7 linked regions of the Homo sapiens genome follow. The protein of the gene in region 1 interacts with the protein of each later gene in a pairwise test. Each region holds a gene or a part of one and is shown in the gene's direction. Other genes may lie near its edges. The genes, in order: CNPY3, SPRED1, KCNJ6, KLK6, WFS1, GOLM1 and RNF11.

Region 1 (4,291 bases):
AGGTTGGTCTTGAACTCCTGACCTCAGGTGATCCTCCCACCTCAGCCTTCCAAATTGCTGGGATTACAGGCATGAGCCTCCGTGCCCAGCCTGTATTCTGTCTTATTCTGATATCAAAGAGCCCATACTCTCCCTCTTATTATTCTCATAGCCTAAGGAGCTCACATTTATTCTCCTTAGGCAACATTCACAGACTCACGGAAGCATAGAGATGCCCAGGATCTCTATATCTCTATATCTAGAGATCATTCTAGTCTACCCTCATTTGGTAACTGATGAAGATTAATTGAAAAGGGATTTGCAGTCACAGGATGGCTTGGCAAACTCCAACCGTTAGGTTCATCTTAATAGTATATTTGTTTGTATTATTATTACACCTTTGTTATTAAATGCTGACTGTGTCTAGCCCACCAAGCCTGCCTCCTGGCTCAGTAGCCTGAGTGGAACAGGCCTCGGCACAGAGGAAGGAGAACCTGCCCGGAAAAAAAGAGTGGGTGGATGTCAGTGAGGGTCTGGTGTCTGTGCCGTGAATCTCCTGTGAGTCTGGTTCTGGGTGGGATCCGCAGAGGAGGTCTTGAAGAGGTAATGTTTGGAAGAGCTGGAAAGCAAGGCTGTGGTTGATGGGTATGAGAGAGAAAGGATGTTCCAAACCTCCCCTTTCCCCACTCCTGGGGAGGGCGTGGGAGGAGGGGCAAGTGGTGCTAGAAAAATGATGTGCCTGCACAGAGTACAGGACAGAAGAGGGGAGGGAGCCCAGATGGTCCTGGATGGAGAGCTGGGGAGGTGAGACATCCCCAGTTCATTGCAGACTTGAAGATCACCAGCTTATTACTTGGAATTTGTATGTGTTTCAAATTCTCCAAGCCATTGATTAATTTCACCAAGCAGGCCTCCAGGGGATGTATTTATTTTTGTGGTAAATTGGTATTCTAGCAGACTGTGCTGTCAGTGTTAAAACTGCTGATGGCATTTAGCCTTCAGACTGGTATTCCATTCAGAGGCATCAGAAGACGGTCTCTATCAACAAGATTTATCGAGCGTCCAGCATATATCAAGTCCCAGGCTAAGGAAATACGAAAAAATCTAATACATAATGCACATTTTGGGGACCCTTGTGGTCTATGTGGAGAGACACATCAAATGACTGAGGGTCCTTAGGGAGAGCATGGATCCTGCAGAGGCCCAGAGTGAAATCTAGAGCAATTGGCATTAGTGCAGAATGGCTTCCTGGGGGAGAGGCTTATAATGCGAGGTGGGCAGGATGGGCAGAGAAGCCCTTAGAAGGCATTAAGTATTTTCCTAGGGCCTCAGGCACTTCACACCCTCGGTGGTAGCACTGTAGCACTCTATACAGTGGTAGTTATTTGTCTACACCTTTATCTGCTGCATTAGACTGAGTATCTGGAAGGGAGGGGACCTTGTTTTCATCTCTGTATCCCCAGGCTGACACGTAGGAGTTGCCTAATACCTATTTGAGGAAGGGTAAGAGGAAATGAGGAAATAAATGTGCGGAGACAGTAGGAACAAGAGCTCTCTGGAGGGCATGGAGCAAATTAACTTGGTAGAAATAGAGCTGATGTTGGAACACATATGAAATCAAGTAATCTAACAACCATAAAAGATGTTTTGGGGACAATTAAGGAAATTTGAATATGGACTACTGGGTGATGTTGGAATTGTTAATTTTCCAAGTATCATAATTGTTCTATGGTTATGTAGGAGGAGGTCTTTTTTCTCAGGAGATACATGATGATATATTTATCTCAAAAGGTCATGTTTGCCACTTACTTTCAAGATGGTGTAGCAAAAGAAATGTATATATTGTTGAGATATTATAATTATATATTGAAGAGAGAATGTGGCAAACTATTAACAACTGTTGAATACAAGTGGAAGGTATTCATTGTGTTCTTTCAGCTTTTCTGTATGTATGCAATTTTAGAAAGTAAAATGATAGACCCTGGCGTGGTGGCTCACGCCTGTAATCCCAGCACTTTGTGAGGCCGAGGTGGGCGGATCGCTTGAGGTCAGGAGTTCAAGACCAGCCTACCCAACAAGATGAAACCTGTCTCTACTAAAAATACAGAATTAGCCGTGCATGGTGGTGCATGCCTGTAATCCCAGCTACTTGGGAGGCTGAGGCAGGAGAATCGCTTGAACCCAGGAGCTGAGATCTCATCATTGTACTCTAGCCTGGGCAACAAGAGCGAAACTCCATCTCAAAAAAAAAAAAGGAATACGAAGAACAATTGCTTAAGGGCAGGATTTACAGTAAGTACATGCTCTTACACAAGAAACAGTAGATAAAATAGAAATCCTAGAGGCATTCCTGAAACTGGGGTTAATCAGAAGTCAACATGGCACATTAGCATCCAAGATGGAGTTGCTTTAGCCTCCACAGGTTCTAACTCCTTCCCTGCCTTGAGTGCTGATTTTGGTCCTCCAGTCTAGGAAAGGATGCCCACCTGGATCTGTTTTGCTGGGAGCTGGCCTCCCATTAGACTCATGTGCACTCAGTGGGCTGTGCTACCTCCCTCCCCCAGTGTGTAAATATGTTGCTGTGGAGCTGAAGTCAGCCTTTGAGGAAACCGGCAAGACCAAGGAGGTGATTGGCACGGGCTATGGCATCCTGGACCAGAAGGCCTCTGGAGTCAAATACACCAAGTCGTAAGTGAATGGGGACTCACTGGCCTGGCCTGCGTTGCTGCTGGAGGCTTCAGGGGTTTGGAGTTCCCTTCTCCTAGCTAGGCAAACCCCCTACAAGGGCATCATTTGTAACCAAGACCTGAGTTTGCCCACTGATTCTGTCCCCAGCTAATTGGGTGACGTGCATAAATCTCTTAACTTCTTTATGCTTCAGCAGATTTCTCATCTCTAAAAGCAAGACTGTTGGACTATATCATTGATTCTCAGACGCTTGGATTTCACAGAGCAATGCAAGTTTTTTTTTGCGACGGAGTTTCACTCTTGTTGCCCAGGCTGGAGTGCAATGGCATGATCTTTGCTCACTGCAACCTCTGCCTCCCGGGTTCAAGAGATTTTCCTGCCTCAGCCTCCCAAGTAGCTGGGATTACAGGCATGTGCCATCACGCCCAGCTAATTTTCTGTATTTTTTTAGTAGAGATGGAGTTTCACCATGTTGGTTAGGCTGGTCTCGAACTCCTGACCTGAGATGATCCGCCTGCCTCGGCCTCCCAAAGTGCTGGGATTACAGGTGTGAGCCACCACACCCGGCCACAGTGCAATTTTTTAAAACATTAGTAACAGGATTACCAGCTTTTTATTTTGCTAGGTACAAATATAGTTTTTAAAAACCCAATTCTGTCAGCTGTGATCATCCTTTCAAAGAGAATGATATTTTACTATCAAAATTTAATAATTTTGCTTTATCAAAAAATCTAAATACTGAATCATTTAGCTTTATAAAAAATTCCTTCCCTTAGAGCTGTTAAAATTTTGTCTCTCTGGTCTGTGTTCCAGCATTTCAGATCCCCCAGACCAGATGACCTATCTTCCTTCCAGCTCTGAGTCACTTCCCATTGGTGAGATGTGCAGGTGTTGGGGCACAGGGCTGGAGGGACAGACCACTAACCCACTGCGGCTAGGAGGGGAACTCAGTTCCTCATCCTCCTGTCTTGGCAGGGACTTGCGGTTAATCGAAGTCACTGAGACCATTTGCAAGAGGCTCCTGGATTATAGCCTGCACAAGGAGAGGACCGGCAGCAATCGATTTGCCAAGGTTGGATTCGGGATTGTCCTTCATCCGCTCTGGGGTCAGGCCTGCATGTATCTTAGTGTGTCTGCTGGTGTGAGTGTGATTTGAAGATGACCACCTGGGATCTTCCTTCATTGCCTCTTCCCATTCTTTGATTGCCGTTTGTGCTCCTCCCCTCTTGAGTGGCCTCATTTTTCAGGCACATGCATGAGGGTCTGGGCCTGTTCATGAGGGTCCTGCTTCAATCTCAGACACAGGCAGAAATGCTCCACAGTTGCTGCCCCCGTGGGAACCTAAAGACACTAGAACGGGGAGAACTCAGCAAGATCCACGATGTGCAGAAAGGTGGGGGTTTAGGCGAGGTGTCAGAGGACACCTCGGTGGGAGTGACTGCCCAGTCCCATCTCTGGGTCCACACAGCACCTCCCACAACCCCGCTGGGATGCCCTTGTGATGGCCCATGTACTCAGTATGTGTACGAGTGCTTTTCTCTCTGGAGAATGAGCTGCTTACAACAAGGCCCATAGTTCTTACTCTCTACATCTTCAGTGCCTGGCACAGGGTAAGATAGTTGCC
Region 2 (4,291 bases), on another chromosome or scaffold:
GAACAAAATCTTGGGGGTTTTACTTTAAAAAACTCTATTATATTAGAAAATAATGTGTTCATCTGATAATCAGTTTTACTAGAGCCAGCATTGTTTGCTTGTGCATTAGATAAACCACAGAGTGAACTTATTTGGAATGTAGCTTTTAATATAGTAATTTATGTCTCATCTTTAATAGGTGAACCGTTTTGAAATGGAAATTTATTATTTATAGTCATTATGAAGAAAGATACGTATCATGGCAGAAGCCATTAAGGCCTTAGCACAGTTTAAAACTGCCCTGTAACATGGATTTTATTTGGGCCTTACATTTTTTTCCCTTTTCTCTTTTTTAAAGCCATTGCTCATAGGGATTTAATTACAGTAGGGACTATTTTTAACATTCTTTAGTTTCTTTTTCACCTGATTTCAACCTTCAAGAAAAGTGAAAATCACCAGTTTCCTGGGAAACCATTAACCCTTTCTAGATAGCCATTGTGGTAAAATCCAGTAGGGCCTCATTCTGAAATCCTCGAGTACATGCTTATTATTTGAAATTAAAGTTTTATGTAGAGAAATGGATAACTCCTAGGCTGACTGTGAGAATATATTTAATCAAGAATTAGTGGGGGATCTGTTATGTGTAGGGCTTTGCTTTAATGCCAAACCAAGTAAGGAAGAAATAAATTAGAATAAAGCATTTCTTAGATTGTTTCACATTTATGTTTAAAAATCTTACTTTTCAAAAATAGTAAACATACTCTAGAGCAAAAGAATTTGTGTTATAAATAGTAGAGGAAATAGCCACATACATGTTTGTTTTGTAGGTAATTTGCACAGAGACTGTTTAATACTCCAGTCAAATGTTTCCGATAGATATAACTGTACCATATTTTACATTATTGAATTAGCCTTCTAAATAGAGTTTTAAACATTTAAAGGCATATTATATAATACTTAAGAGTCTTTGTCCTTTGGTATTGAGTGTATATAGCACTGCATGTCCTTTTGTCAATTTGGCCAAAACATTTGGAGAAGTGAAGTAGCTGAAATAATAAGCATTTGGCTTATTAGGTTCACGTTAGCCAGAAACACTTCCTGTGTCAGTATTAGGCTTTCTAATAGCAAGTTGGGATTATATTAGATTTTGGAATTAGGTTAACTAGAATTAGACCATGTATGATAAACGTACTATGTTGTAATCTGAGTTTGAACTGTTTTTCCGTAAATAGAAAGCAAATTTTTATGGTTATATCATTTAGTGCCTCATAAAAAATATACCCAGTGGTGAGTTATTTTTGATAAGTGTAAATAAACATATGTTCACCCCATACATTTTACGTATGTATATGTATGTACACACACACACATATATATATATATAAAATTGGAAAACATTCTAGAAATAAATGGAAGCACTGGAAAGCTGTGTAATATTAAGCCATCTAATGTTTGTTTATATAGATGTGGTGTATACATAATATAAAAATTTGCTTATTATTCAGTTGGCCTGTGTAAAAATCAGCTAAATGACTGCATACTTGCTTCAACTTAATTTCCCTCTGCTTTCTCACTTAAAACTTTATGATCCTGAATTATATATTTTAAACACATTATGATACCATACCTAGAATTCCTCTCCTTACAAACTTTTGTAAATTTGTCATTTTTCCCCAAAAGACCTTCTCTCTTCCCCTCTTTCAACACTCTGTCCCTCTATGTTGCCTCTGTACTTCGTACATATGTATATTAGTTTTAAAATCATATAATATTGTGATTATTTACTTATTTCTATGACCGCTATTCTGTAATTCCCTACTTTTGTTTGTATGCCTAGCACAGTGCTTGATGGCAAATGCTCTACAAATGTGGTTGAATTAATGGAGCCTCATTACCTCATTTTTTTGTTTTCTCTGAATTTATGCATTTGAGATCATTAGCTGTATTAGAAAAAAAGGCCGAAAAAGAGTATGGGAAAAGTAAATTATTACCCGTTTAAGAAGGCTTACCTTTTTTTTTAAGAAAAGACAAAAATTGGCCTCATTTTTGACATGTTTTGTTTCTGCAAGTTTGAGAAATAACTTAGATCAGGCTTAAAAACTGTCCTAAAGTGCTGTTGGGATGTTTGGATGTGCTTGGCCTCTGAGTTATGTGGTGTATCTGAAGACCCGTGTTATATCCACAAGAAGGTAGACATTTGTGTGTCTGTCTTTTTTGGCATAGGAAGCTCAAAATTTAGGAATATGTATCTCCAGCTGTTTATCAGTTTTAAGTCTTTAAATTGCTCTCCCTTTCCCCCATGGTTCCACATTAGTGCCAAGGGTGAGGAACTGACTAGGGATAAAGAAGTGAAATTGATCAGGAAAGGGTAAACAGCAGCAGATTCCGTGATTTTATACTGCAGCTGTTGGTGACTGAGAACTGCCTAAGGGGAAAGTGTAACAATTTAGCCTTTTCTCTGGTGTTGTATAACTTGAACTTGACTAGTCTTACCCAGTTTGGGGAAATGATTGGTAAAGACAAGCCTGCTTTTCTTCTCCATCTTTCAGTAGGAACAGGAACGACATTAAAAATGCCAATTTAAAAAATGCTTCACCCCATGTAAGAGTAGTAGTTTATTTCAGATAATGTACAAAATGATCTCTAAAGTGAGTAATAATTTATTTGCAATTCTGCCATTAAATAACAGCTGCTAAAATTTTGGTCTACATGGAAACCTTTCTTATGATGTTGGTGATGAAACATATTCATTTATTAGATTTTTACTGTATGCCAAGCACTGTTATAAATGCTTTATGAAAGCATTATGTAGTTTATATATATACATGTGTTTCTTCTCAGTGGAATGGAATTGCACAGTGGGTACAATTGTAGCTTAATGTGAATATTTTCTTAAGTCGTTAAATATTCTAGAATATAATTTTTAGTGGCTACATTATGTTCAGTGTATGATATACATTAGTTGTAATCAGTCTCCTATTGTTGGATATTTTAGTTATTTTTAAACAATGTTGCATACCATCCTGAGTTCTGTCTCCATCCAGATCTCTTACTTTTCCCTTGAGATAGTCTAAGAATGGAGTTAAAAGAGAGGAAAATATTTAATTTTATTCTTTCTGTTAAATTGCCCTCTAGAAAAGAAGTATTTAGTATATGAGAGTGCTTAAACTTTGAAATGTCTGTACAGTTGTCTGAATTTTTCTTTGCCAATTTTGAAGGTAGAAAATGAAGTCTTATTTTTTAAATGCTTTATGGTAAAATAAAATTGATTTAAAAACTTATTAGGTTGTTTTGCGGTAACTAGAATGTTTTTAAATGCTATATTATAAATAGAATTTAAGTGCTCATGTAAAAGCCATTTGTACATCATTTATTTAACTCTTACCATCTTCTGTGCAGTATGGTATAGTCTAAAGAACACTGGACTTGAAATTGGGAGATGGATTTCTTTTGTAGCTATTTTTAATTTATTCTCTAATCCTGGGCTCTGTAGGCCTCAGTTTGCTGATTTATAAATTAAAGAATTTGGACTAAGCATCATATGTGCCCTTCCTTTGTTGATGGTGTATGATTTAGACTTTGTTAATTTTATTATATTGTTATTTTTGACATACTTAAACAAAAGACTTAAGAGTAGAAGTGGTAGGAAGATTAGGTAAAAGCATGCATTTTGAACAATTAAGATACAAAATTTGGAAACAATTGGTATATTAATAGTCTTTTAAGACTTACTTTGGGCTTAATAGCCATGTATCTTTGATGACACAAAATTTTGTACTACTCAATTTTGTTTTTTATGTATTTATTTATTTTAAAGAGGCAGGGTCTTGCAGTGTTGTCCAGGCTGGAGGGCAGTACAGTGGTATGATCATAGCTCACTGCAGCCTTGAACTCCTGGGTTCAAGTGATCTCCCACCTGTGCCTCTTAAGTAGCTAGGACGACAGGTGTGCCACCACACCTGGCTAATTTTAAAATTTTTTGTGGTGATCGGGTCCTGCCCAGGCTGGTCTCAAATTCCTTGGCTCAAGTGATCCTCTTGCCTTGGCCTCCCAAAGGGCTGGGATTACTGGCATGAGCCACCATGCACAGCCCTCATTTTAAAAAAGAGAAAAAAAGTATGGCCTCCATCTGTGGATGAATAAGTAAACAAAGGCTATTGGGCTTAAACACCAACTTGATTAGTTCTACAAGGAATATGCTAACAAGATACCAGTCTTTATGCTTTACTTACAGAAGTAAGTTTTTTACTAGGTCACTTATACAAATCAGTAATGTAACACTAGGGGATAACTGTATATTAGTTTAAGAAGT
Region 3 (3,584 bases), on another chromosome or scaffold:
GTAGAAAAATGTCCAAGGAAGGTCAGCATCATTGATAGAAAATAAATGTGAGGCTGCATCTCGCCAGCTCATCCATGAGCAATTCCTTCAGCTCCAGCAGGCTACTGACAATTTGCTTTTAACCCAAATCCAGCTCTACCCTCCCTAAAGCATGCACCTAGGGCCCCAGTCAGAAAAACAAAACAAAAACTAAACCAGACAGGATAATTAAGGAGGCAAAAAGCTTAAACCATAATATTTTAATTAAGCTGATTTATTTTAACCGTAGCACTACTGCTTTATTTTAGTTATATACCAGTAATGGAAAATAGTGGCCACTTTTCATTATTAATCATAAGATAATTCATTGTATTTGTCTTTCCTAATAAAATGGCATTATATTAAGGCCCAAAATGTTTACTATGGCCCAGTAAAATATAGGGTTGTTCTGTGAGCTATTTCTTAGGATAGAAAATTATTCCAGAAAGCTATTAGTTCAAAAGTCTCTAGCAGTGCCAAGGTTTCAATAGTCTCTTTAATTTTGAATCTATGCGATTGAAGATAAGACTGCATCTAGTTTGGGGGTTGCATGTTTGTGGACATTCATGTTTCTATGTACCTGGAACTTCTTATTCTCACCATCACACAGAATTTTCAAGAACTAGTTAAGCAAAGAAAGCAAAGCCCAGCAGGTGTCAGAATTGGGTCCCCAAGCTGAGGGTCATTAGGGTGCATGTCAGTGTGCCAACTCCAATATCCACACCTAGAGAACGCACATCTTCCCAAAAGAAATGAAGCACAGATGATACTTGATCCTCAACTTTGTCTCCAGAAATTTTTTCAGGAACTTGAGTTCTTTATCAAATGCTCACATCCTACAGAGAAATAAAGTGTTCCATTTTCAAGGTTCATGAAGCTCGTCAATGCTGGGAGCAGGCACACACTTGTATTTTTATACTCAGGGATCCCAACAGGCAACTAAAACTAGACAAGGACAAAACTCCACTCAAAATATTCTGAAAGTTAGCTGATGCCCCATATTTTATTACTCCAAATGTGTATTCACTTGCCTGAGTGCTGGCCATGAGCACTCAGTGAACACTTGCAGTACAGTGAGTGATGTCCTTGACAAGTTACTATGAAGACTCTGAGAAAAAGTAACATCCCCCACTGTCCTCAACAAGCCTGTAATCCCATGGCTGCCAGCCCTTACCATGCAACAACACTGCGCTAAGTGCATCGAACCACACAAAACCCTGTGAGAAAATACTGCTTCCCACTTCACACGTGAAGTAACTGAGTCTAGTTTTAGAAATACCTAAACGAAGAGGGACAGGCACAACAAATTTGCTGGAATGTAAAGAAAGTAGATCAGTTTCTGCGTAAGCAGTAAGAAATGGCCTCATGAGGAAGAAAGGGACATTTGCCCTGACATTTCTCAAAGACTGCTTAGGTTTTGGAGACAGAGATCCAAGGGCAGGCAAGCACAATGGTTCATGCCTGTAATTCCAGCACTTTGAGAGGCCAAGGTGGGAGGATTGCTTGAGCCCAGGAATTCAAGATTAGCCTGTGCAACACAGCAAGACCCCATCTCTATTTTAAAAAGAGAGAGAGAGATCCAAAAGCAAAGGCATTTCAGTTTGCAAGGCCAGCATGGGAGAGGGTCTTAAAACAGAAACACACAAGGTAAGATTGGGGGATGGTACCTAGACCAGCCTAGGATCATAGGATTTGATAAAATATGCATTTGGAAAACTGGTGCTAATTTATAGAGACTTAGAATTTCAGGCTAAGGACAAGGACTAAGAAACGAATAGCATGAACAGTATTATTGATAAACCCATCATTGCATCTTAAAGGCTCTGAAGTCTTTAGTATTGAATTAAAAAATAATTTTCACTGGACAAAACCAAAAGGTCTTTACACAACTGTCAAGCACTTTGAAATGATTCAGCAAAAAGCAGAATAAATCACTAGTGGAATTTCAATAGCATGTAGTTGTAAACCATCATGTGTCCAGCAAAATCACAAAACAAGAGTTTATTTTAGAAGGGACTTAGGGATATTAAGAAATATAACATACAAAATAACTAAAGTTTTCTCCAAGCAAAACCAATGATCCTTTAGGGATGAACAGAAAGAAAACAAGAAATGCTTCTTTCAAAAGTTGCTACCAAGGCTTCTAAGATTTCTTTGGAATAAAGTCACTAAGATTTGCTTCTGAGGTCAATCTTGCCAACTTTTCCACCATGCTTTTTAGGAAGGAACACCAGGTAGGGCTCAAGTACTGGTTTGGCTCCTGTCCCATTTTTTGGTCCTTTTGTAACTCCCTTTACTCAACTCCAAGTATGTCTGTGCACGGACAATGAGACGAAAGCATGCTCAATGCGAAAGCACAAATTATGTATTGAGAAATCACTACAATGCCAAATTTTTTTAAAATAAAAAAAAAATATATATATATATATATATCTTTAAGAACTCGCTGTGTTAGGGAAACTGTTTACATATTGAGGTGTTCCTCTTTTTTTGACTGGAACAATAAAAGAAAAATTTGATATGGCCTTGGTTTCTTTTTTATGTGTGTCTGTGTCCAAAGAAGTCGGCCTTTTCTACAAGTGAGAGCATGAATTGTTTCAAAGCGCAACACCCTGCCCCAGGGCCACTCAAGATGTCAGGCATATCAGGCATAACCCAAGGATAGTACCATGGGTTTGGAGTGATCTTCTCTCTTCTTCCCTCCCACTCTTCCTCTCTCTCCATCTCTTTCTTTCTCTCCCTAACTCTCTTGCTCCCTTTCCTCCTTCTCGCTCTCCCCCTCCTGTCTCTTTCCCCATCTCTCCCACAATGTTCTGCCTATGGCCAGATCCCAGCAATGGGTCAGCTCCGCTCCTTTCCACACCTACTGACCCAAGTGGGACTCCTTTGATACCTGTTTGTACCTTGCACTTCATGGAACTTGAAAAAAACGAAAGGGAATTAGGGACTTGCAGAGCAGTTGATCCTGCCCCTTGTCACAGCTCTAAGAGTCTTAATAAAAGGAGTTTGATCATTCATGATAAAGTTCCATGTTGGACTAAAGAAACATTCCGTGAGAGTTTTTCGTGTTCTCAGTGGTCCATTTTGCATGGGTTGGCTTTGCCAAACTCCAGTGCCTCGGCTCGGCTCTAACTCCTCCCCACCAGGGAATCTCGGGCTGGTGGCTTAGCCAGCTGTCCCTCTCTACCGAGGCGTGCAGGAAGCCAAGGTTTAAAATGACACGTGAGTTGCCTCATACTGTAACATGAACAAAAGTCATGTAAAAATGTGCCTAAGATAAATTCTTTCCCAGAAGCTAGTGTTTGGTGAAACAAACCCTGGGACATCGTGTGTATTTCGTCCTGATTTTCCTAATGTGCCCCTGCCAATATTACTGTTGTGCCTGGTGGAATTATTACCCTGTCCTCTGTGTCCCCCAGCCCCTGTGTGTCTGTCGCACTTGGCACCCATCAAGCCCCACGCAACCCTGTGGAGATGCATCCAGGGAAGAGCCCCATCTCTGCTTTTCTCTGGCCACTGAGGCAACCCTCTGCATTACCCCCAAGGGATTGGCTAAAGCGACTCCC
Region 4 (4,875 bases), on another chromosome or scaffold:
TGGGGGGCTGGGACTTGGTCCCAAGGGAGATGGGGACCCAGGGCACGTCTGTGAGAGGAGGGGCAAGGTCAGCACAAGGCACAGGAAGGTCTCTCTGGGGCAAGGGATACAGAGAACAGAGGGATCCTGGTCCAGGTGGGAGAGGTGCAGCTCTGAGTTGGGGTTGAGGGTGTGGGTACAGAGAGGAAGGGACCCCCCAGAGAGAGGAGGCAGAGGGATAGGGCCTGGTCACTGGGTTGTGCAACATCAGACTTGCTGTCTGTGAAGATAGCACGTCCTGAGAAGAAGGTGCTGAGGTCAGTGGGGACCAAATGTGAGAGGGAGCACCCGGAGAGTATACTGAATACCGAAGTAGTCTTCATCCCTGGAGTGATGGGGGGTGCACAATGCAAGATGACAATTAGATTCAATGCAAGACAAAGAAAAGGGTTGGCTGGGAACAGTGGCTCATGCCTATGGTCCCAGCTCCTGGGAAGACTGAGGCGGGAGGGTCGCTTGAGCCCAGGAGGGTTGAGGCTGCCACGAGCAAGGATCGTGCCACTGCACTCCAGCCTAGGCGACAGAACAAGACCTTGTCTCAAAAGAAAAAAGAACTTTTTTTTTTAAGTTACCTGTAGTGCCCAGCCCAAGCAGGTGCTGAGCCAGACTTCATTCCTATCATTGTCCTTATTACGCAGTGACTTCCCCCTCCTCATTTCTCTCCACTCTGCCACGCACACACCCTCACCCTCCAGCCCATACCAACCACCCCAACCACTGCCTGTGGTTTCCCATGTGCACCCAGGCCAGGCATTTTCACGGCCTTTCCTCCTGACCTACGCCTGGCTCAGCTTTCTAGGCCCAAGTTCAAAGACACCTCCCTAAATCTTCCCAGATCCCTCTGCTACTGCCCAGCACCACCATCTTATCACAGCCCCACGTCGTTCCCAAGTGCTCTCCGATTTCTGCTTAACTCCATGCCTCTCGCTGTGTGTCCGCATCTCATCAATAAGTCCTCAAGTCCTCTTCCATCCTGCTAGCTTCCTCATCGCTCGGGAATCATCCCCGCTACTTCCTGGGGAAACTGACTCCCTTCTGGGCACACACAGTGCTACCCCCGGGGAAATCTAAGAAGAGACCCAGGAGAAGATAAGCACGGAGAGTCAGAGAATCAAGGGGAAAGAAAGGGAGAGAGGCCGGGCACAGTGGCTCACACCTGTAATCCAGCACTTTGGGAGGCCAAGGTGGGTGGATCACCTGAGGTCAGGAGTTTGAGACCAGCCTGGCCAACATGGTGAAACCTCTTCCCTACTAAAAATACAAAAAACATTTAGCCGGGCGTGGTGGTGGGTGCCTGTAATCCCAGCTACTTGGGAAGCTGAGGCAGGAGAACTGCTTGAACTCAGGAGGCGGAGGTTGCAGTGAACTGAGATCACACCACTGCACTCCAGCCTGAGTGACAGAGCAAGACTCCGTCAAAAAAAAAGAAAGAAAGAAAGAAAAGAAGGAAGGAAAGAAAGAAGGAAGGAAGGAAGGGAGGAAGGGAGAGAGGAAGGGAGAGAGGAAGGGAGAGAGAGAAAAAAAGAGGGAGAGAGACACAAATACAGAGACTGAGATGGGAGAGAGAGAGAGATGGAAGCTCCCTCCCCTCCATGGCCAGGGAGACAGATGGAGCAAGAGACCTCAGGGGTGGGCAGACTTGGAGGAGAAGGACCAGGAGGATGTGGAGTGCCGAAATCTCCAGTCAGGGCCAGGTGGGCAGTCAGAGACTGCAAAGGAGGACTGTCAGACAGGGACAAAAGGAAGCCATTGATGTAACCGCCCTCCCGCCTGCCCGCCGGAAGAGAGGTTGAGGCCGGAGCTGCTGGGAGCATGGCACTGGGGTGCTGGGGGCGGACAAAGCCCGATTGTTCCTGGGCCCTTTCCCCATCGCGCCTGGGCCTGCTCCCCAGCCCGGGGCAGGGGCGGGGGCCAGTGTGGTGACACACGCTGTAGCTGTCTCCCCGGCTGGCTGGCTCGCTCTCTCCTGGGGACACAGAGGTCGGCAGGCAGCACACAGAGGGACCTACGGGCAGGTGTGTGAGTCACCCCAACCGCACTGAACCTGGGCAGGCTGCTTCCCAGTGCCGGAGGGCTCTAGAGCCCGGAGTGAGGGCCTGCAGGTCCCTGGGTGGCACAGAGAGTGCTGGGGGTGCAGGGAGGCCTGGGGCACCATCTGCTTGCCCCAGAGGCCGGAATTTGTCTTCAGACACTTTCTTTCTCCAAAACCCGGAGGTCTAAGGACTGAGCCGACTAGAACTTCCTCTGCCTCAGATTCAGGCCCCAGCCCCTCCTCCCTCAGACCCAGGAGTTTAGGTCCTAGCCCCTCCTCCCTCAGACCCAGGAGTCCAAGTTCCCACCTCCTCCCTCAGACTCAGGAGTCCAGGCCCCCAGCCCCTCCTCCCTCAGACCCAGGAGTCCAAGTTCTCACCTCCTCCCTCAGACCCAGGAGTCCAGGCCCCAAGCCCCTCCTCCCTCAGACGCAAGGGTCCAGGCCCCCAGCCCCTCCTCCCTCAGACTCAGGAGTCCAGGCCCCCAAGCCCCTCCTCCCTCAGACCCAGGAGTCCAGGCCCTCACTGCACTCAGGGACCAGTGCTCCCTTCCCTGGAGGCCTGGTCAGGGGTCACCAAGAGCAGAGCGTGGGGGCGGGAGGAATGTGTGTGGGAGGCCTGGGTAAGGAGGAAAAGGGTGTAGCCAGTCTCCTGGCTCAGGGACCTGAGAGACAGGGGTTAAAAGGACGTTCCAGAAGCATCTGGGGACAGAACCAGCCTCTTCCAGGGAGGCCTGGGAGCTGGGGGTGTGTGTCTGGCAGTCCCTGCAGCCCTGGGCTCTGCGGCCCCTGCGTCCTCCGCTTGGCTCTGCCACTGCATCTGAGTGTCTTCTCTCCTCACGGCTCCCCGCATTTCTAACTCTTTCTGCCTCCTCGTCTCAAAGCTGTTCCTTCCCCCGACTCAAGAATCCCCGGAGCCCGGAGGCCTGCAGCAGGTGAGATCACAGACATCACAGAACCTGCCGGGTGGGCGGGGTGGGTGGCCATTGCGCACAGAGCCAGGCTCCGAGGAAAACTCCCATACAGAGGAAGAACGCTAGGGCCCCCTAGGGTAACCCTCTCCTGTCGACAGGAAGGCAAATCAGTGCCCAAGAAAGTAGAAAGATCTAATCAGAATCTCACCATGGGTTACTGGACCAGTGGACGTAGTTCTGAATTCTCTTTGGCACTGTTTTCGTGGGATCCTCTGATGGAAGATGTGGGCTGAGGAAGAATAAATCAGGAGGCTAGATGGGAAGGACAGAGGTCAAGGCAGGAGACCATAGCAGGCCAGGAAGGAAGGAGAGGATGCAGAGGGAGCAGACAGAGGGATGGGGGGAGGGTCGAGGCAGTGACTAATGGACCATGTGGCTTCCCCTCTCAGGAGCGGCCATGAAGAAGCTGATGGTGGTGCTGAGTCTGATTGCTGCAGGTGGGGAAAGGGCATTTGGATGGGGGAGGCTTGCAGACAGGGTTGGGCTTGTTGATGGAGAAGAGGCTGGTATTGGGGATGGGGATATGCACAGGGTTGGGGTGGGGGAGCTTTGAAATGAGGAAGACGTTGGGGATTAGGCTAAGGGTGGGGAATACAGATAGGGAGGGTGGTGGGAGGTGGGTTTGAAGATATGAGGGTTTGGGGTGGGGTTGGCTTTAGGGATGGGGATCTAAACATAGAAGAGGTAGGAGGTAGGTTGGAAAGTTGGAGAGAGCCCGGGAATAGGGGATACAGTTGGGTTTGTAATGGGAATGGGGTAAGTTTGGGAGTGGAAATACAGAGAAGCTTTTTTTTTTTGAGACAGGGTCTCACTCTGTCACCCAGGCTGGAGTGTAGTGGCATGATCCATAGTTCACTGCAGACTTGAACTCTTGGGTCTCAAGTGACCCTCCCACCTCAGCCTCCCAAGTAGCTGGGACTACAGGCGTATGCCACCATACCCTGCTAATTTGTGTGTGTGTGTGTGTGTGTGTGTGTGTGTGTGTGTGTGGAGATGAGGTCTCACTGTGTTACCGAGGCTGGTCTCAAACTCCTGGGCTCAAGCGATCCTCCTGCCTCAGCTGGGATTACAGGCATAAGCCACTGCACCTGACCAATCTTGACTGGAGTTCATGTTGAGGGGGATGCGCTTGGTTTCTCCAGAACTCCTCTCTGACTCAGATCTTCTCTCCCTCAGCCTGGGCAGAGGAGCAGAATAAGTTGGTGCATGGCGGACCCTGCGACAAGACATCTCACCCCTACCAAGCTGCCCTCTACACCTCGGGCCACTTGCTCTGTGGTGGGGTCCTTATCCATCCACTGTGGGTCCTCACAGCTGCCCACTGCAAAAAACCGTGAGTCTACACTGTAAATGAACAGCAGATGCGACTGAACCCTGAGGGTGTCTTATAGATGTCAGGCAGGAGGTGACATAGGCATCCCCCCCATCCCAGCACGAGGCCATCTGATAGCCAGGTGCATTCGGCTGTTGCTTAATTGAGTACTTAATGTGTGCCAGGCCCTGCGGGCATAGCAGTGGAAAAGAAAATAAAAAAAAGAAAACAAAAAAAAACAAGCAAAATTGCTGTTTTCCTGAACTTACTTTCTAATGGGGGAATTGGATCATTTGGGGACCTGCAGGGCGTGATGGGCATTTGGATTTAATTCTGAGCACAGTAGGAAGCCACTGGGCAGTTTTGTTTTTGTTGTTTGTTTGTTTTTTGAGACACAGTCTCGCTCTGTCACCCAGGCTGGAGTGTAGTGGCATGATCTCAGCTCACTGCAACCTCTGCCTCCCAGGTTCCAGCGATTCTCCTGCCTCAGCACCCCAAGTAGCTGAGATTACAGGTGTGCA
Region 5 (4,291 bases), on another chromosome or scaffold:
CTCAGGACCACACAGCTGGTGGGCACAGAGCCAGGAGTACAGCGCTGCGGCAGCTTGGGGCTGGGAGCGAGACTCTCTGTTACCAGCCTCTCCCTGCTCTGTGCCTCAGAGGATGGCTGTGGCCCTGAGCTTGGGAGGGTCATTTGGGAATCTGAGGAAAAGTTTCCACAGCCTCACACAGCAGCAGGTTCAAGGTCCAGCAGTGCCAGGGGTTTGCATCCCACCCCTAACGCCGCTCATCCAGGGCCCATCCGGGTCCGGGGCTCGGGATCCTGCAGCGCTTTCAGCTCTGTGTCTGTGGCCGGTGGTTGTCCTTCATTACAGGGATGGTGGTGTTTTTCCATGTTGCTAAGCAGCATGTGAGGGCCTCTGTTGAATAAAATAAAGCCCTTGCTCCGGCGTGACACGGGTCACGGGATCTCTGCTCACTCTAGTCTCTTCTGATGCCCCCACCGCACTGTTTGCCTTAGTTTGCTTTTTACTCTCTGTGTTGGTTTCTGGGGCATCAGTCCTCTGACTTCGGTGCTGTGGCTTGGGCCTGGGGTGGGGGCTGTGGAGCGGCAGATCTGGGTATGAATCCCAGCTCCACCCATTTGGCTCCCTCTCTTCTCTCCCCTGCCCTCTTCTCCCCTCCCCAGCTCCCTTCCCCTCTCATATTTACTTAACTTTACTCAGTACCAGCGTATTAGTTTTCTAGGGCTTCCGTAAGAAACTACTGGAAACTTGGTGGCTTAAAACAACAGAGGTTTGTTCTCTGATGGTTCTGGAGGCAGAAGTCTGAAGTCAAGGTGTGGGCAGGGTGGGTCCCTCCTGGAGGCTCTGAGGGAGGCTCAGTTCCTCGCCTCTGTCCAGCTTCTGGCAGTGGCCAGTGGTCCTCCTGCTCCTTGGCCACTGTCACCCGTCTCCGCATGGCTCTGTTACACTTCTCTTCCTATAGGCCATCAGCTCTTGGAGCCAGGGCTTCCCTACTCCAGGCTGATCTCATTTCAAGATCCTTAAATACATCTTCAAAGACCTGTTTTTCCAAATAAGGGCACATTCACAGACATTGGTGGGCACATGATGTGGGGCCCAATTCAGCCCCCTGCAGCCAGGCTCCACATGGGTGGGCTCTGGGTGTTGCTATCATCATCCCCGTTTCTTGGATGAGGGAAGGCCAGGGTTGTGTGGCTCATGCCCAGTGAGGCAGGGACTCCAGGCCTCGGCATGTGCAGGTCTGAGATTGTAAGTGCCATGCCATCTGTAGAGTCACGTGGGTGAGTGTCCTCCCATGGTTTCCTCCCTGGAAGCGGTGCTGGCCCATGGGGACTGTACTGAGTGTCAGCGAGATCCTGTATGGAGTGTCTGGCAGCTCCCACCTGCCTCCCTCTGCTTTTCTGTCTCCAGCAGACACTAAGTGCCAGAGCGGGCTCTGCCGGTGCTGGATGTGCCTGACCTTGACTTTTCTTCCAGGCAGGATGGACTCCAACACTGCTCCGCTGGGCCCCTCCTGCCCACAGCCCCCGCCAGCACCGCAGCCCCAGGCGCGTTCCCGACTCAATGCCACAGCCTCGTTGGAGCAGGAGAGGAGCGAAAGGCCCCGAGCACCCGGACCCCAGGCTGGCCCTGGCCCTGGTGTTAGAGACGCAGCGGCCCCCGCTGAACCCCAGGCCCAGCATACCAGGAGCCGGGAAAGAGCAGACGGCACCGGTAAGGGAGCAGGCTGGGAAGCCCAGGCTGGGGATGTTCAGGGATAGCTGGGTGGGAACGGGGTTCAGCCACCCCTGGAGGGTCCCCCCGCCAGGTCCTCTGCAGTTCAGCATTGTGCAGCTCCCATGCTGTGCACAGGCGTCCATCCAGTGGGGCTACCCACCTCCTCAGAGCCTTGCACCTGTCACCTTTGTGGCACCCACTCGAGGTGGTGCTGGTGCCCCCACTCCTCTGCAGTCCTTCTCTTCCCAGGGCCTCTGCAGCACTTCACAGCTTCCATTTGCAACAGCGTCCAAACATGTGGAGTAAATTCACGGGCCCTCTGTAACCAACTAGGGTGGCAGGCCAGAGGTGACAGCCACACTCTCGGGAGTGAGGCCACATGCGGGCGAAGCCCTTGGTGCTGAGTTTCCCCTCTCCCTGAGGGAGACTTGTGAGGGACGGGCGTCCTTCACCTCCATCCTGAGGCGGGATGCTGGGGCCCTGGGTGTTCACAGGCAGAGCTGACTGAGGCCCTTGGTCTTCACAGGCCGAGCTGACTGAGGCCCTGGGTGTTCAAAGCAGAGCTGAGGCCCTTGGTGTTCACAGGCAGAGCTGACAGGCTTGTTGGTTCCTGGGTGGTGATGTGAGGGTGGTGGGTGTGAGCCAGGGGAGTCCGGCCCCTGGGCACCTTCTCCAGCTGACTCAGGCCTCGGTCAGCCTTCACTTTTGCTAGAGAGGCCGCTGCCAGGGAGGCTCAGTCCCAGCTCATCACTGCCCCTCCTGCCCATGCAGAAGCCCCAGACCCATGGTGAGTGCCTGCTGTGTACACCAGCCTTTTCCATGTGCCTGCAGGACTCCTCATGGCAGTCCTGAGAGGGGAAACTGAGACACCGAGTCTAGGTGACTTGCCCAAGAGACCCAGCGGGTGAGAGACGAGGTGCTCGAGTGGTCCAGGTTTCCTTCTTGTCCCAGTCACCCCACTGGCAGGGCCGTGGGGCCTCCCTGCTGTGGTCGCAGCGCGCTGAGGCTCCCATGTACCACTTATGCTGGGCGTGCCCTTGGAAACTCACTGCAGCCCTGGGCCCTGTTTGTCTTTGCATCTCCTTAAAAGATCACTGTGCTCCTCTGCTTTGTTTTGGAGGCCTCTGGGCGGATGAGGGCCTGACCCCGGGATTTGGGCCCAGCCTCACGGCTTCAGGGGAACAGATACCAGGGCTCGGAAGCTTGGTTTCAATCTGGGTAATGAGAACAGCCCGCAAAGGACAGAGTCCAAGACTGTGTGTTTCAGATAAGAAGAGTCAGGAAGCAGCTGTGGTTTGTTTGGCTTCGGTCTCCAATGTGGGGGTGGTGAAGAGCAAGCCCTGGGCGCCGCCTGACAGCCCAGTCCCCACCACTGGGCCTGCAGCTGGGGGCAGTGGGCATCCCGTCTCCCAGTCACTGGTCACTGATGTGGCCAAAGCAGGCCTGGCCCTGCATGCCCAGTGGCCGCAGGGAGGGCAGGGCCCAGGGTCCCTGCCAGTAGCAGCTGCTGCGAGAATCTGTTATTTAGCTCCCCCATCCAGCCAACATAGGTGGGTGAGCATCAGTTGAAATACCAATAGGTAACAACAAGGGTAGCTATTTAACTGACACTTCCCCGAGCTAGGCATCTTTTTAGGGCATTAGCCCACTTGCCTCTTTAACAGCCCTGGGAGGCAGGCTCTGCTGCTGCCCTGTTTTTCAGATGGGAAACCGAGGGATAGAGGGCTTAAGTAGATGACCCAGCGTCCCGTGGTTGGTGAAGGGTGGAGGGGAGATTTAAACATACCGTGGAGCCTGTGCTCACTATGGGCCTCAGGTCATCTGCGCCCAGGGATCCCCATGTCCCAGGCTCAGAGAAGTGCACAGAGCAGGTTGGCCTGTCCCTAGATCAGTGCCTGGCCAGGCCCTGGTGACAGGAGTGAAGGCTCAGTCCTGCCCTCCGGGAGCCCTGAGCAATATGGGAGACAGGAGTGAACAAGGAACTACATTCTGGGGCTCATGTAGCGCGGGGGACAACCCACATTGCAGTCCCCTAGGGGCACCCCAGGAGGGCCTGGTCACTCTTCAGGGCATCAGGAAGACTGCCTGGAGGAGGCATCGTCGGAGCCCCATCTGAGCTGCTCCTTGGCCTGTACACTTGGGAAACAGGAGAAGAGCAGCCTTGGGGTTGCCCTTCTCTGGTTGCCTCCCTGAGGAACTGACCCCCTTTTCAGCCCTTCATTCAGCAAGGCTGGGGAGGGGCTGCTTCAGAAACGTCACTGGGCTGGAGCCCCACACTTCCTTCCCATCCTGGCTCTGTGGCCTTGGCAAGTCACCTGCCACCTGGGGAACCACTGCCAACGGGTCGGGGCTTGGAAGCTCAGGGGCTCCTGGGCCCAGACAGGTAAAGGAAACAGTGACTCCGGCTAGAAAGGAGACTGCAGGGAGTTGTGAGGCTCTTGGGCGTCCCTGTGCCAGGGCGGGACTCCTCATGGCAGCCCTGAGAGGGGAAACTGTGTCCTGTGTGGAGCGTGGATGCCCACGTGCTGAGAGGTGTTGTCTGTCCTGATTTTTGACAGCAGCCCAAGTGATGTGCCAGTGGGCCAGGGCCGGCACCTGC
Region 6 (4,291 bases), on another chromosome or scaffold:
TCTGATTTTTCAACAATGTCCCCCTAAAAATTATCTTTTATATTTCTCCAGGATGTCAGTTGTTTCAATTGGCAGAGTTGTTTGGAATTTTTAGAATCCAAGTCCTAATTTGAATTTTCAGCTGTCTTCATTTAGGCAATTTTTTAAAAAGGCAAATGGCAAAATACACTAGCAGCCAGACTTTGAAGCAAATACAAACTCTCTGTTGTCATTGACTCCACTCATTTATGTTCTTGAGCATGTTTCACGGTCTGGTCACTGTCTTACTTCTATTCTTTTTTTTTTTTTTTTTTTTTTTTGAGACAGAGTCTCACTCTTCTTGCCCAGGCTGGAGTGCAATGGCACAATCCTGGCTCACAGCAGTCTCCGCCTCCTGGGTTTAAGTGATTCTCCTGCCTCAGCCTCCTGAGTAGCTGGGAGCTGGGATTACAGGCTCATGCCACCATGCCCAGCTAATTTTGTATTTTCAGTACAGACAGAGTTTCACCATGTCCACTAGGCTGGTCTCGAAATCCTGACCTCAGGTGATCTGCCTGCCTCAGCCTCCCAAAGTGTTGGGATTACAGGTGTGAGCCACCACCCCGGCTCTAACCACCTTTTAAATTGGGCCTAGTTTCCTACTAAATGATGGGCTTTGCGGTGAAGCCTTTTTGGATCTCTCATTCCCTACACTCAGGTGTCCTAAGGACTTGACCTTGTGCAAGGTTTTAAACAAAGTAAGTAGGTAAGGTAAAGAAAATGAGTGCCTTGTCAGCTCTTTGAAGAAGCTGAAGAAATGTCAACATCAGCTTCAACATTATTTTAAGATTGTGTCATTGAAACAGTGAGACCTTACTTGCTCCAGGGAAATTAGAAGAAAAAAGCATTAGCTCCAACTTTATTAAGAGCCTTTAACAGATACCGTTAATTTAATATGGCAGGTATTTAATGGTCATTAAACTACCATTTAATGTGCCATAGTTATAAATCAAGACCGTGGTTTTAGGTTTTATTTGTGATGTGCCTTTTTATGTTTTCTGTGTGTTAAAAGGATAGAGTAAGATCAGATGGTAGAAGCTACATACAGACATCAGCTCTGTAAAGGGAGAGCTTTGGAGTCACAAGAGCTGTCTGAAGCTGCAGACAGCTCTCAGGAGGCAGCGTGTGCCATTAGAAGTGCAGTAGCAAGGGAGTCACGCCGCACAGGAGCGTGGTGATTATATTTAAAATGTCATGAGTGCACTTGATACTGTCCATTTTCTATGGCATATGGGGCATTATGTCACTGTTACAAACAAGTATGGAATCTTTAGGTGCTTCAGCTTTGTTTCATGGCACATTGTTGGTCATCCATTTGGACACTTTGAAAGGGGAGGAGTTCCAGCTGGGCGTGGTTGCTCACGCTTGTAATCCCAGCACTTTGGGAGGCCAAGGCGGGCGGATCACGAGGTCAGGAGATCGAGATCATCCTGGCTAACAGGGTGAAAACCCGCCTCTACTAAAACTACAACAACAAAAAGAAATCAGCCGGGCGTGGTGGCGGGCGCCTGTAGTCCCAGCTACTCGGGAAGCTTAGGCGGGAGAATGGCGTGAACCCCGGAGGTGGAGCTTGCAGTGAGCTGAGATCGCACGACTGCACTCCAGCCTGGGTGATAGAGCCAGACTCCGTCTCAAAAAAAAAAAAAAAAAAAAAAAAGTTCCCTTATCCCCTTCACAGGGCATGCAATGGGGGTATGGCTTTCTTCTTCAGTGCCCCACAGCTCAAACCCCTAGGGGAAGCATGCGGACGGACAGGTTGTGGGGAGGATGGGTTTCAACCCCGCGGCAGCATCTAGGGTTGAGTGGTTACAGCTCCTGGAGCCCCACTGGGTGTGTGTTGCAGTGCGTTCTTTCAGCTTAGCTGTCCACAGGCAGCTTGTGTTAATCAGTTCAATTAGACCCTCTGCCTTATCGCAAGGACAGAGGGCTTTCTGTATCCCAGGTTCTTGCCCTAGTGTACTGAAAAAATCAGATCATGTGGGCTTGGAGAATGAATGCAAGATTTATTGAGTGGTGGAAGTAGCTCTCAGCAGATGGCTGGGGAGCCAGAAGGGGGATAGCATGGGAAGGTAGTCTTCCTCTGGAGTCTGGCTGCTCAGCAGCCGGGATCTCCTACTGTCCTTGGCCGAATTTCCCTTGGCGTCCGAATCGTTCCACCATCAATGGCCTGCCAGCGTCTTTCGATGTGTTCTTCTGCCAGTGTGTTCCTCTTGACGTCCAGCCGCTTGTGTGTGTGCCCGCTGGGGTCTCAGGGTTTTTATAGGCACAGAATGGGTGGCATGGCAGGCCAGAGTGGTCTTGGAAAATGCAACATTTGGGCAAGAAGACAGGAGTCCTTGTTCTCATTAGGTCCATGGGCACAAGCCTGAGGGTGGAGCCCTTGCCAGTGACCCTGCCCTTCTCTACCCAGCACTTCCCTGTCCCCCTCCCATATCACCGTTGCCATCTTGTCCTTGATGAGGAATACAACTCCCAATTACAGTGTTGCTGTGGGAGATGCAGTCCTCTTTATGACAGTTTCTAGAAGTTGATAAGAAAATGGGACCTGCCTAGGGCTAGTATCTCATTTAATACTCTATAGAATATTATGTGTTTTTCCTTTTTAGTTTTTAATGTTGAAGATCAGAAAAGAGACACCATAAATTTACTTGATCAGCGTGAAAAGCGGAATCATACACTCTGAATTGAACTGGAATCACATATTTCACAACAGGGCCGAAGAGATGACTATAAAATGTTCATGAGGGACTGAATACTGAAAACTGTGAAATGTACTAAATAAAATGTACATCTGAAGATGATTATTGTGAAATTTTAGTATGCACTTTGTGTAGGAAAAAATGGAATGGTCTTTTAAACAGCTTTTGGGGGGTACTTTGGAAGTGTCTAATAAGGTGTCACAATTTTTGGTAGTAGGTATTTCGTGAGAAGTTCAACACCAAAACTGGAACATAGTTCTCCTTCAAGTGTTGGCGACAGCGGGGCTTCCTGATTCTGGAATATAACTTTGTGTAAATTAACAGCCACCTATAGAAGAGTCCATCTGCTGTGAAGGAGAGACAGAGAACTCTGGGTTCCGTCGTCCTGTCCACGTGCTGTACCAAGTGCTGGTGCCAGCCTGTTACCTGTTCTCACTGAAAAGTCTGGCTAATGCTCTTGTGTAGTCACTTCTGATTCTGACAATCAATCAATCAATGGCCTAGAGCACTGACTGTTAACACAAACGTCACTAGCAAAGTAGCAACAGCTTTAAGTCTAAATACAAAGCTGTTCTGTGTGAGAATTTTTTAAAAGGCTACTTGTATAATAACCCTTGTCATTTTTAATGTACAAAACGCTATTAAGTGGCTTAGAATTTGAACATTTGTGGTCTTTATTTACTTTGCTTCGTGTGTGGGCAAAGCAACATCTTCCCTAAATATATATTACCAAGAAAAGCAAGAAGCAGATTAGGTTTTTGACAAAACAAACAGGCCAAAAGGGGGCTGACCTGGAGCAGAGCATGGTGAGAGGCAAGGCATGAGAGGGCAAGTTTGTTGTGGACAGATCTGTGCCTACTTTATTACTGGAGTAAAAGAAAACAAAGTTCATTGATGTCGAAGGATATATACAGTGTTAGAAATTAGGACTGTTTAGAAAAACAGGAATACAATGGTTGTTTTTATCATAGTGTACACATTTAGCTTGTGGTAAATGACTCACAAAACTGATTTTAAAATCAAGTTAATGTGAATTTTGAAAATTACTACTTAATCCTAATTCACAATAACAATGGCATTAAGGTTTGACTTGAGTTGGTTCTTAGTATTATTTATGGTAAATAGGCTCTTACCACTTGCAAATAACTGGCCACATCATTAATGACTGACTTCCCAGTAAGGCTCTCTAAGGGGTAAGTAGGAGGATCCACAGGATTTGAGATGCTAAGGCCCCAGAGATCGTTTGATCCAACCCTCTTATTTTCAGAGGGGAAAATGGGGCCTAGAAGTTACAGAGCATCTAGCTGGTGCGCTGGCACCCCTGGCCTCACACAGACTCCCGAGTAGCTGGGACTACAGGCACACAGTCACTGAAGCAGGCCCTGTTTGCAATTCACGTTGCCACCTCCAACTTAAACATTCTTCATATGTGATGTCCTTAGTCACTAAGGTTAAACTTTCCCACCCAGAAAAGGCAACTTAGATAAAATCTTAGAGTACTTTCATACTCTTCTAAGTCCTCTTCCAGCCTCACTTTGAGTCCTCCTTGGGGTTGATAGGAATTTTCTCTTGCT
Region 7 (4,291 bases), on another chromosome or scaffold:
TCTGGCATGAAGTTTTTATTTTAAAATCTCTTATGCTCCCTACCCTCACCCCCTTCTATTTTTAAAAAAATAGAGACAGGGACTCCTATGTTGCCTAGGCTGGTCTTGAACTCCTGGCCTCAAGCAAATTCTCCTGCCTCCTATCCCCTTTCTTAATTGAATATCTTTGACTTGTTCTCTTTCTCCTATCCTTATGATAATTGTACTATTAAAGGTACTAGAATTTATGGAAACTGTGTTTGCCTTTTCCAGAAGAACTAGGTGATGATGAGGGATGAGGGGTTTTTGGTGTCATGAAGGAACTTTTTTTGGAAATGTTATATTTTTGACAGTGGGAGTTTTTTATGGTTGCAGTTTCCTGAAGTGAATGACGCAGACTAATATACAAATTCAGTATCAATCAGAAGAAAATTACTTTAAAACATGGGAGCATAAAAAGAAACTTTTGGAGAAAAAGTATTGTCCCCCACCCCCAAAGAAATAAGATCTGTCTTAGGAATGGTTATTTTAGATGATCTGAGAAACAGCAATCCAAGGTTATTTATTCATTTATTTGAGTTGAGAATCTCCCTCTGTCATCCAGGTTAGACTGGATTGCTCACTTGGCAGCCTCAAACTCCTGGCTTCAGGTGATCCTCCTCCCTCAGCCTCCCAAAGACTGGGATTACAGGCGTTAGCTACCTCACACAGCAGATTTATAGTATTCTCAGTTGATAAAAGTAACTTTTTCAACAAATTATATGTAATTAACAGTGAATAGCTGATTGTAAAGGAACATGTTCTCTTGAGGTGAGTAGTTAAAAGATGTCATTGTTTGCTGCTTTATATGTACAATGTACATATAATGACAAGAGCCAGTTACAGTTATTTCCTATTAACATCTGACAAATTTGTTTTTATTTATTTTTGCCTTAAAGTAAATCCCTGCACCATTATGATCCAAGTTTGTAGGAAGTGTATATTTCTTTCCATGGTTTCTTTTGTAGCCTCCTAACAGTTATCCCTGCTTTCACCCTTGTCCTCGCTAAGGCCTGTCCTCAATACAACAGCCACAGTTATTTTGGTAAAACTGAGCATGACAGTCTCCCCAACCCTCTGTGTGGATCCTTGTTTCATTCAAAGTAAAAATCAGATTCCTTATAGTGTCGCATAAACCCTACATAATCTGTACCCCTTGTTTCCACGCATGTCCCTTGACACCTACAGCTAACCCCTTTGTTGGCTTCCCTCCAGCTTCCCTGTCCTCATTGCTATTCTAGGACCTTTGTCCTCCTTATTCTGGAATACTCTTCCCCAGATTTCATGGCTGACTGACTCCCTTACCTCCTTCAAGTCTTTTCTCACTGCCCCCTTAAACCTTCTCTGACCACCCTGTTTGAAAGTGCAACCTGCCCTAATAACCTGGAAGTCCCTCTCACCCTGTTGTTTTCCCCCCCAATACCATTTATTACATTCCAACATGTGTTAGAAAGTTGCGTTGTCTATTACCTGTCTTCTCCCACTAGGTAGAAAGGAGGAAAGGGGATTTTTTTTTTTAATTGGTGTTTCCTAAGTACTTATAACAGTGCCTGGCACATGTTAGGCATTCAGTAATTTGGTTGAACGAATGAATAGATTTCTTTTAAATGAACTAATGTATTTGAGGCAGGTATAGTTGCACTGCTTACAAGAACTCTGCATATTCCTAGTGCCATTTTTGCTTCTATATTGTAGATCAGGTTTTTTTTTGTTTGTTTTTTTGTTTTGTGACTGGGCCTCCCTGTGTTACCCAGGCTGGTCTCTCTCTGTATATATATGTTTGGGTTTTTTTGTTTTCTCTTTTTTGAGACCAAGTCTCACCTTGTTGCCCAGCTAGAGTGCAGTGGTGTCATCTTGGCTCTGCCTCTTGGGTTCAAGCGATTCTCCTGCCTCAGCCTCTGGAGTAGTTGGTACTACAGGCATGCGCCACCAAGGCCAACTGATTTTTGTACTTTTGGTAGAGATGGAGTTTTGCCATGTTGACCAGGCTGGTCTCAAACTCCTGACTTCAGGTGATCTGCCCACCTTGGCCTTCCAGAGTGCTGGGATTACAGGCGTAAGCCCCTGAGCCTGCCCTTTATATTTTTTAAATTTAAAAAATAGAGACAGGGTCTCATTATGTTGCTAGTCTCAAACTCCTGGGCTCAAGGGATACTCCTGCCTCAGCCTCTTGAGTAGCTAGGGTTACAGGTGCACTTCTACTCTGCCTGGCTCAGGTTTTAAAAAAAATTTATTTCCTTTAGAGATGAGGTCTTGCTGTGTTGCCCAGGCTGGAGGGCAGTAGCTATTCACAGGTGCAATTATAGTGCATTGCAGCCTCCACTTCCTGGTCTCAAAGGATCTTGTGGCTTCAGCCTCCTGAGTAGCTGGGACTACAGGGTTACACCACCGTGTCTAGCTGTTGTAGATCAGTTTTAAGGAATCCTAAAAAGTCAAATTCCAGTAATATTAAATACAGCAATTGGTTTACACTAAGTGTTAAGTGATTTAGGGGTTTTTACCGTGTATATATATCACCGCAAGATATTTATGTAATGGGAAAGTACTTGGGGGAGAAAAAGAAAGTACTTGAATCCCTATTCTTGAAGTATTGGATGCAAAGAGATTTAGGGTGTTTGTCAAATTAGAAAGTAGAAACAAATTTGTCGCACCCTCTACCCAACTCCCTTATTCCTAAATGTTTAAAAATAATACAGAGGAAATCTGCCCAGCGAAGGCAATCTTGGAAGGACAGTGAGTGGGAGGATAAGCCAGGAAAGGCTGAAGAAGGGAGGTCCATGAGAGGGGGAGGCCAGGTAGGCAGCCCAGCCCTGAAAGGCATATGTAAAACAGCTTGAGGTACCCCTGTGTCACTGTCAAGAGCTTTGTTATGTGCTAAATTGAGGGAGGCACTTTGTTAAAAGAGTGTAATATTCATTGAACAACAAACCATGTTACATTTTCTAATCTGAATATATAAAAATAAGGATAGGTGTCTCTCAATTTTGCAGTAGTTATATAGTTTGAGATTCGCCAGTCTTCTTCCCCGACCTATACTTTTTGATTGATACATTTGAAATTTTAAAATCCTGAGAAAATAAGTTTGTATAGCATTGAATGCAAGTATAGCTCTGCTTTTAGAGTCAGATTGTCCTGTGTTCAAATTCTGGCTCTGCCGCTTACATGTAAAATATGAAAAAGGAAAGAATTTATCAGATTGTTTTGGGGAGCTTTTTTGACAAATAAGAAAATGTAACATTTTGGATATTTCAAATTGTGTCTGCATAAAGCTTTCTTCAAGATACCTTTTTTTTTTTTTTTTTTTGGCTGGGCACAGTGGCTCACACCTGTCATCCCAGCACTTAGGTGGCAGAGGCAGGAGGATCACTTGACCCCAGGAATTCGAGACCAGCCTGGGCAACAAAGTGAGACCCCCATCTCTATTAAAATACCAAACAAAAACAAAAAACAAACAAAACCAAAAACCCTCTTTTGTTGTTAAAAGGATTGGTTTATCCTGTAGAATGCACTAAAAATAACCCCCTTCCTTATAAAAAATCTAGAATGTACTGCTTATTTTTAAGCATGCAATGCTATAATGTTTTGTGGGGGATGGGCTTGTTTTTTTTAGAGATGGAGTCTCACTTTGCCCAGGCTAGTTTCGAACTCCTGGGCTCAAGTGATCCTCCCACCATGTCTCCCAGTGTTGGGATTACGGATGTGAGTCACTGTGCCCTGCCTGTAATGGTATATTAATGCCTCATTTTCCTGATAACTTACGAAGTTAAATTTAGATAATTAAAGGGTTGTGTTTTTTTATTAGCATTTTGTTTAACATTTGGGTGGAAAATATCTCCAAATTTATTTCACGTATCTAGGCCTTATTATACAATTATTCAGCTTTTAACAATTTACCTTTTTGAAGTTTTATCCCTCCCCTTCTTTATGCTCAAGAAGTTCAGCCTTCTTATTGAGGGGCAGATCAACTAACTCCACCTTTGTTAATAAAGCCTTCACTGACCATTTTTTTCCTGTCTCTGCTGATTTGTCATGTACAGTTTTTTTGTGTTTGTAACATTTATCTGGAAATCATATATTGCCTTATTAGCTTTTGTTGCTTTAACAGTTGTTTCTCCACATCAGTTTCCTCAAGAATGAGAATGATACATTAAACTTGTAAGATATCTTAGTGGAGTAGAATGTTACCTTCCATATTGTAGACACCCAGTGAATATTTGATGATAGACTAAATTAGAACTGTGACTTCTTACCTTGTAAGGTCACCATCATAATT

Evidence for each region.
Region 2: the proteins of CNPY3 (region 1) and SPRED1 interact in binary tests that used the Homo sapiens proteins (3 or more experiments, as listed by UniProt).
Region 3: the proteins of CNPY3 (region 1) and KCNJ6 interact in binary tests that used the Homo sapiens proteins (3 or more experiments, as listed by UniProt).
Region 4: the proteins of CNPY3 (region 1) and KLK6 interact in binary tests that used the Homo sapiens proteins (3 or more experiments, as listed by UniProt).
Region 5: the proteins of CNPY3 (region 1) and WFS1 interact in binary tests that used the Homo sapiens proteins (3 or more experiments, as listed by UniProt).
Region 6: the proteins of CNPY3 (region 1) and GOLM1 interact in binary tests that used the Homo sapiens proteins (3 or more experiments, as listed by UniProt).
Region 7: the proteins of CNPY3 (region 1) and RNF11 interact in binary tests that used the Homo sapiens proteins (3 or more experiments, as listed by UniProt).

The regions. Positions count from the first base shown.
Region 1 is NC_000006.12:42,931,932-42,936,222, forward strand, and holds part of CNPY3 (protein canopy homolog 3 isoform 1 precursor), read left to right. Parts: intron 1-2,446; exon of another isoform or gene 2,447-2,543; coding exon 2,544-2,667; intron 2,668-3,480; coding exon of another isoform or gene 3,481-3,542; intron 3,543-3,605; coding exon of another isoform or gene 3,606-3,642; coding exon 3,643-3,739; coding exon of another isoform or gene 3,740-3,823; exon of another isoform or gene 3,824-4,291. UniProt on the Homo sapiens protein: Toll-like receptor (TLR)-specific co-chaperone for HSP90B1. Required for proper TLR folding, except that of TLR3, and hence controls TLR exit from the endoplasmic reticulum. Consequently, required for both innate and adaptive immune responses.
Region 2 is NC_000015.10:38,255,475-38,259,765, forward strand, and holds part of SPRED1 (sprouty-related, EVH1 domain-containing protein 1), read left to right. Parts: intron 1-4,291. UniProt on the Homo sapiens protein: Tyrosine kinase substrate that inhibits growth-factor-mediated activation of MAP kinase. Negatively regulates hematopoiesis of bone marrow.
Region 3 is NC_000021.9:37,606,331-37,609,914, reverse strand, and holds the end of KCNJ6 (G protein-activated inward rectifier potassium channel 2), read left to right. Parts: 3' UTR 1-2,542; downstream 2,543-3,584. UniProt on the Homo sapiens protein: Inward rectifier potassium channels are characterized by a greater tendency to allow potassium to flow into the cell rather than out of it.
Region 4 is NC_000019.10:50,966,669-50,971,543, reverse strand, and holds the start of KLK6 (kallikrein-6 isoform A preproprotein), read left to right. Parts: upstream 1-1,952; 5' UTR 1,953-2,054; intron 2,055-2,776; exon of another isoform or gene 2,777-2,952; 5' UTR 2,953-3,003; exon of another isoform or gene 3,004-3,027; intron 3,028-3,190; exon of another isoform or gene 3,191-3,271; intron 3,272-3,431; 5' UTR 3,432-3,439; coding exon 3,440-3,479; intron 3,480-4,047; exon of another isoform or gene 4,048-4,218; coding exon 4,219-4,375; intron 4,376-4,875. UniProt on the Homo sapiens protein: Serine protease which exhibits a preference for Arg over Lys in the substrate P1 position and for Ser or Pro in the P2 position.
Region 5 is NC_000004.12:6,275,999-6,280,289, forward strand, and holds part of WFS1 (wolframin), read left to right. Parts: intron 1-1,452; 5' UTR 1,453-1,457; coding exon 1,458-1,689; intron 1,690-4,291. UniProt on the Homo sapiens protein: Participates in the regulation of cellular Ca(2+) homeostasis, at least partly, by modulating the filling state of the endoplasmic reticulum Ca(2+) store.
Region 6 is NC_000009.12:86,026,227-86,030,517, reverse strand, and holds part of GOLM1 (Golgi membrane protein 1), read left to right. Parts: intron 1-2,624; coding exon 2,625-2,701; 3' UTR 2,702-4,291.
Region 7 is NC_000001.11:51,239,023-51,243,313, forward strand, and holds part of RNF11 (RING finger protein 11), read left to right. Parts: intron 1-4,291. UniProt on the Homo sapiens protein: Essential component of a ubiquitin-editing protein complex, comprising also TNFAIP3, ITCH and TAX1BP1, that ensures the transient nature of inflammatory signaling pathways. Promotes the association of TNFAIP3 to RIPK1 after TNF stimulation.